2 linked regions of the Homo sapiens genome follow. The protein of the gene in region 2 interacts with the protein of the main gene of each other region in a pairwise test. Each region holds a gene or a part of one and is shown on either strand. Other genes may lie near its edges.

Region 1 (3,500 bases), on a different chromosome or scaffold from region 2:
GCCTTCTCTTTAGATCTATTGGAATTAGAAGATAAAAGCACTTTGTTTTTTAGAGATGGGGTCTTACACTGTCATCCAGGCTGGAGTGCAGTGATGTGATCGCAGCTCACTGCAGCCTCAAACTCCTGGGCTTAAGCGGTCCTCCTGCTTCAGCCTCCCAAATAGCTGGGACTGCAGGCACTTGCCACCATGCCTGGCTATTTTTTTTTTTTTTTTTTGTAGAGACAGGGTCTTGCTGTGTTTCCCTATCTGGTCTCAAACTCCTGGGCTCGAGCCATCCTTCCACCTCAGCCTCCCAAAGTGCTGGAATTATAAGCATGGGCCACTTCACCTGGCCAAAAGCACATTTTTAAAATATTAATGCTTAATTAATGTTTATGAAACATTCTGTGCCCATACCATATATTGGAATCACTGGTCACAGCCATCTCCTTTGAATAAAAGCTGTTATTATGAAAGATGGAAAAATTTCAGAAAACAGCAAAATAATTATTTTTTCCCCCTGAAATTATTACATTTGATGAAGATTTTTCCCCCTTTTGTTTACACCTGCTGTATATACCTGCTTGCTTTTTTTCCCTCGAGCTTATCTTTTGTTTCACTTTTTATCTACTGAACTAGTTGGGAGGACAAAAAGGAAACTCACATTTATTGAGCACCTATTATATGTTGAGGTCAGTAATCCAGTGAGTGCAACTGGCAGATAGTTGGAGGTTGTATTACATTGCCATGGCAGTTGCATAGATGGCACTGCAGGTTAGTTAGTGCTAATTGTTGCCTACCGCTTTGAGTTTTCTTCACATTCAGCTTCTCTTGTATTTGGTTCAACTAATATTATTCATCTTTCCTTAACAGTTGGTTACAGAGAGACACATTTCCCTTATTGATTTGAGGATTAAGGTCGTAGAAATATGGTTATGTGTTTAATTTTTAAATACTGTCCTATAATACTGCAGGCCTGGTTCATACACATTTCTAATAATTCTTTTAAAACCTCATTTATTTTTATGGTTTACTTACCTTTTAAAAAATATTTTGAAACTAGTTCTTTTTATATTTGTTTTAAAAGTTACATGAGGCTGGGTGTGGTGGCTCATGCCCTGTAATCCCAGCACTTTGGGAGGCCGAGGCAGGTGGATCACTGGAGGCCAGGAGTTTGAAACCAGCTTGGCCAACATAGTGAAACACCATCTTTACTAAAAATATGAAAAAAATTAGTCGGGCATGGTTGCACACACCTGTAATCCCAGCTACCCATGAGGCTGAGGCATGAGAATTGCTTGAACCCAGAAGTGGAGGTTGCAGTGAGCCAAGATCGCGCCACTGCACTCCAGCCTGGGCAACAGAGCAAGACTGTCTCAAAAAAAAAAGTTACACGAGTTTTTGATTGATCTCATGAATATTCTTCTCAAAGAGCAAAAGCCATCCTTATATCTTTGGTGTTATTTTGAATGGAGACAGAACAGGTAAGGCCTAAATATTCTCAGTCCTTTATGTGAGCCTAGTTTTTAAAATCTAAGTAATGTTTGTTTACACTGGACATAATATTCTTACTGCTTTTCTAGTGAGGAGATTTCTAGTGAAGATGATGAGCTGGTAGAAGAGAAGAAGCAGCAACGAAGAAGGGTCCCTGCAAAGAGGAAGCTGGAGATGGAGGACTATCCCAGCTTCATGGCAAAGCGCTTTGCCGACTTTACAGTCTACAGGAACCGCACACTTCAGAAATGGCACGATAAGACCAAACTGGCTTCTGGAAAACTGGGGAAGGCAAGTGTGTGTATGCGCGCATGTATGTGTAAGATAGGTTGTGGCAACTTGAAGAAGTTTTAAGAAATTGGAACTACAGCTCATTTATATGGATGTTGTCACGATGTAATGGTAATCATTCATTTCTATAGCAAAATCTACTGAACTTCTGGCACTGGGGTTTATACGATTCAGACTTGGGATTTTAACTTTATTAGAAAGAATGTTTTATTCTTAAAATTGAGGCCTTGTAAGTGTTCAAGTGCTGAAAATCCAAATACTTTAAAGGAGTGGATTTCAAAGCAATAATTATTAAAGTATCAGAAGCTAATCTCCGTGTGTAGAAAAATGATATGACCTGCTTAAGACTAACTTTTTTTTTTTAAGAACAATTATAGCCACTCACAAACTCAGTCCTTTACAGAAAGTCCCTCCTGAAAAGATGATTTTCTATCTCTCTGCTGACACAGAAAGATAGAGAAACCAATGTAGCTTGCCTTCAGCACTGATTTTCTGCATTATCTGACACTGCTTAATGTTGTTGCAGGGTTTTGGTGCCTTTGAACGCTCAATCTTGACTCAGATCGACCATATTCTGATGGACAAAGAGAGATTACTTCGAAGGACACAGACCAAGCGCTCTGTCTATCGAGTTCTTGGCAAACCTGAGCCAGCAGCTCAGCCTGTCCCAGAGAGTTTGCCAGGGGAACCGGTAAGAACTCTGTAATGCAGAGTGATTATGGGGAATAGTTTCTATGAGGCTTATTAGCTGAAAAACTTGTAGCTATTACCTGTTTATATAAGAGGTTAGTGAGAGAAAGGAAAGCAACACTACTTTACTGGATTACTGAGAGAAACTTGAGTGTATGTGAGAGGAGAGAGTTTTTAAAAATGGGGCTTCTATTAACTCCTGTGTGTCATCTTCTCTTAATTTTGAGTTTGATGCAGGAGTCTGGTAGTAGAAGCATTCATAATCCAATTTTCAAAATTCAGTTTTAAAGCTACTTCTGTAGAAATGTCAGTATTGAAACAAGTGTGTACTTTAGGCTCAACGTTTGCCATTTAGGTACTTTAGAAAGGGTGCAGAAGTGGAATAGTCAAATTCTTTTGTTTAAAGGAAACATTTAAAATTTTTTAATTATGGAAGAAATATATACTTAATCCTTTTTTAGTTTATAGCAACTTAAAATGAAAAGCAAAATTCTCTACTCTGAAAATTTCACTCCTGAGGTGAAATTTTTTTATTTTTTTTGTCAATTGCCTGTTAACGTAACTCCTGAGGTGAAATTTTCAGTATTTAATAGTTGTAACAAGTTTACAGTTAATAATTAATAGTTGTAACAAGTTTTTGGGTCTTTTCTATTTGTGTAACTATATATGTGTGCAAATAACAAATATATATGTATAAATATGGTTGCCTTTTTTACTAAATGAGAGACATTTATGTAGTATAAATATGTAAAATATTACAACTGTATTTAAAGTCTTGCAACTTTTAAAATCTAATAAGTCCTAGATACTCTTTCCATTTCATTACCTAGAGAGCTACCTCATTTTTCCTAATGACCTCAAAGTATTCCATTGTATGGATATGCACTATCATTTATGCAAACAATGGATATTATGTTGTCTCCAGTTTCAGAAACACTGCTACAGGAAAGATTCCTGTACATGTATTATGTGTTCGTATAAATATATGGGTAGATTTCTTGAAGTGGAAGTGTTAAAGAAAATACACCAAATTCTGATAGATG
Region 2 (3,500 bases):
TCAGGCCGCCGCCAGTGCTCACCGTCGGGGTAGTACTGCTGGCCCATGGGCTCCGCGGCGCCCTGGCTGTGGCTGTACTGCTCGCCATAGTACTCCTCCTGGCCCAGGTACTGCTGGGAAGAGCCTGCGGGGGAACCACATTCAGCGCCAGTGCGGGCCGCGCCCTCCTCCCTCAGAGGACCTGCTCGCTCACTGGGGAAGCCAAGGCCTTGCTGAATGGCCTCACCCACCCGAGGAGAACACCCCACGCTGTCATCGTATCCAACTTATGTTTTGTATTTTTAGTACAGAGTTTCACCATGTTGGCCAGGCTGGTCTTGAGCACCTGGCCTCAGGTGATCCGCCCACCTCGGCCTCCCAAAGTGCTCGGACTACAGGCATGAGCCCGGCCTGTGACACTCTTAATGACAACTGCCGCCCCTGCCCCCAACACTGACTCCTCGGGGACAGCAGACCCTCCACGGGCCACACCCTGGCCCTCACCCCCAGGGTCCACACTCAATGTTAACACCAAGGCGCCAAGCCTCACTCCCCCAGGCTCCCCGCCTCACTCCCCCAGGCTCCCCGAAGAGAAGCACACACAGCCTGGCACTTCACGACCCGCGGCGGTCAGCTGTGCCCGCGACCTGGCCCGGCCGGGCGTTACCTTGCTGGGAGGGCCGGTAGGGCGCCATGGGCCGCTGCCCCATCATGCTGCTCCCCTGGCTGCCCTGCCCCATCATGGCGATGGACGACTGGCCCTGGTAGTGCTGGCTGCCGCCCTGCGCCGAGCTGTAGTGCGACGTGGCCGCCTGCTGCTGCATCATGGAGACTGAACGACAGGACAGAGGCCCCACATCACCCCGGGAAGCCTCCCGCCCTCCCTCCCACACCCAACTACCTCCTGCGCCCGGGCGGGTTCCTCGTTATTTTCCTGTGCTCCCCACGAGGACAGCGTCCTCCACCGCAAGGCACGCCTCCCCTACGTGGCCTGCACTGACGCCCTGCAAGCTCAGACCCGCTGCTTGCACCGACTCTACCCCACCTCTGAGAGCCCAGTGCTGTCTGTCCAGACCCAGGGCCAGTGGCCCCCACTCCCTGGGGCATTCCCTGAGACTCCATGGGAAACACCCCAGCCCCTCGCAAAGCTGGGGGACAGGAGGAGTTGATCGTGCACCCACTGGCGCCCATCCCTCCGGAAGCTCTCAGAGGCAGCGGCCAGCCCCGATTCACGGGCCCCTCCCCTCCAGCACCCAGCAGGAGGGCAGCTTCCCCGGGACCACATGTCCAACGTGCATGTGTCAAGGGTCTTGGAGGCAGGCCCAGGCCCCCCGGGGTTGCAGAGGCAGAGTAGGTACCTGGGTTGGACTGCATGTTGATGTTGGTCCGAGACACGTAGTTGCCGATGGTGCCTTGCCCCTGCATGGGGACGCCCTGCGAGGCGGGTCCCGCGTGGCTGTAGCCGGGCCCAGAGATGCTCATGGAGGTGGTGGGCAGCGTGTTAGGCGCCGTCTGCTGCATGGACACGTGGCTCGGCCCTGGCATGGGGAGCAGGGAGTGGTGTCAGGCACTGGGGAGCCAGGTCACCACTTCTGAAGGTGAAGACACCCCAATTTCCCTTCAAGTGACTTTGGGAAGAGTTGCTATCAACAGCACTATTAATGATTAAGTGACTAATAAATAAGTGGCCGGGAGCAGTGGCTCATGCCTGTAATCCCAGCACTTTGGGAGGCCGAGGTGGGTGGATCACCTGAAGTCAAGAGTTCGAAACCAGCCTGGACAACATGGTGAAACCCCGTCTCTACTAAAAATACAAAAAAATTAGCCAGGTGTGGTGGCACGTGCCTATAATCCCAGCTACTTGGGAGGCTGAGGCCGGAGAACTGCTTTAACCCGGGAGGCGGAGGTTGCAGTGGGCCAAGATCATGCCCATTGCACTCCAGCCTGGCCGACTAGAGCGAGACTCTGTCTCAAAAAAAAAAGAAAAGAAAACAAAGCAGCGTACATGCTAGCAAAGCACAGGATGAATCGTTTATTTGTTGTTATTTTGTTATTATTTTCTGAGACAGGGTCTGGCTCTGTCACCCAGGCTGCAGGGCAGTGGCATGAACAAGGCTCACTTCAGCCTCACCCTCCCAAGCTCAAGTGACCCTCTCTCCTCAGTCTCCCGAGTATTTAACAGTTTGGACTACAAGTGTGCACCATCACACCCGGCTAATATTTTTATTTTTTGTAAAGATGGGGCTTTGCCATATTGCCCAGGCTGGTCTCAAACTCCTGGCCTCAAGTAGTCTGCTGGTTTAGGCCTCACAAAGGGTTGGGATTAGAGATCTGAGCCACCACACCCGGCCTGTTATATTACTGTTAATGGTCTCCAAACGTTATCCATGCTTCTCAATCCAAAGACAGGAGCATTCCATTCCTATTACACAATCCACCTGGAACCCCGCAACTTGCATTTGAATTTGATGGAACGTGACAGTGTCAGAGAGAGTGGACAACTGGAGCAGGGGCTCAGCCCAGCCGCACGGCACGCTCGCTGCGGCCCTGAGCCTGGGCGATGGCAGCCGACCTGTGGCTACCCCAGGAGGAGTGGGTCCCATGCCCAGCCCTGTGAGGGGTGGGGTGCCCCACCATGGCAGCCGGCTGCCCAAGGGCTGCCTTGGTGGCCTCGTAGCCAGGAACGTCCTCCTCCCCCGCCGCACTCACCGTTGCCAATCTGGCCCTGCAGGAGGGAGGAGGGTGGCAGGCCCGTGCTGATGGCGTCACTCAGGCTGCCCTGAGAGTGCAGGCCCTGGCTGGAGCCGCTCTGAGTCAGGGCTCCAGGGCCCAGGTTCATGTTCTGCGTGGGCGGCTGCAGGCAACAGGAAGTTTTCAGGGAAAAACGGTTAATTTACGGAGAGCGACCTCCACAAGCCAGGCCAGGGATGAGAGGGCACCCGAGATTTGCCGCCACACATCATGGCCACCTGGTCAATGTTCGTAATCAGCAGCCATCGTCACAGCCAGGTGACCGCAGAGCACCAGGCCCAGATGGAGATGGCAGAGTGAGCATCTGGGTGAGCGTTCACAACCCTACTGAGTATCAAGTTCATCCACACGTGCCTGGGTGTGAAAAGCTGGACCTCCTCCTGGGACAGCAGGGAACCCCTTTCCCGGCCCACCAGGCTGAACGCACCCCGTCCCCCTCGGGCGCAGGTGACCAGCGCCTCTGTGCTCCCCAACCACGACCCCTCCGTGCCAAGAGCTTCGGCAGAGGTGGGATCCCTCTCCTGTTTCCCGTGCTCCTGCTGCATGTGCCCCTTCCCCGACTACCCCCACCCCACACCCGCCTCGGATCACACCGCACAGAAGGGAGTGAGTGTGAAGTGGCCCTCAGCACTCTCCCAGATCAAGGTCAACCAGCAGCTCTGGAGGTCTGCACACACATGCTGTCTACACCTGGCCAAGAAAAGGAAATTTCCACCAGGACCTGTGGGTGTCTGCAGGGTGAAGAAGTGCAATTTGACAGGTCAATGGAG

What was found.
Region 1: the proteins of SS18L1 (region 2) and AATF interact in a two-hybrid assay, tested with the Homo sapiens proteins (one large-scale study listed by BioGRID and IntAct).

The regions. Positions count from the first base shown.
Region 1 is NC_000017.11:36,986,954-36,990,453, forward strand, and holds part of AATF (protein AATF), read left to right. Parts: intron 1-1,565; coding exon 1,566-1,767; intron 1,768-2,293; coding exon 2,294-2,458; intron 2,459-3,500. UniProt on the Homo sapiens protein: Part of the small subunit (SSU) processome, first precursor of the small eukaryotic ribosomal subunit.
Region 2 is NC_000020.11:62,160,769-62,164,268, reverse strand, and holds part of SS18L1 (calcium-responsive transactivator), read right to left. Parts: exon of another isoform or gene 2,834-3,500; coding exon 2,689-2,833; intron 1,518-2,688; coding exon 1,338-1,517; intron 812-1,337; coding exon 647-811; intron 125-646; coding exon 23-124; intron 1-22. UniProt on the Homo sapiens protein: Transcriptional activator which is required for calcium-dependent dendritic growth and branching in cortical neurons. Recruits CREB-binding protein (CREBBP) to nuclear bodies.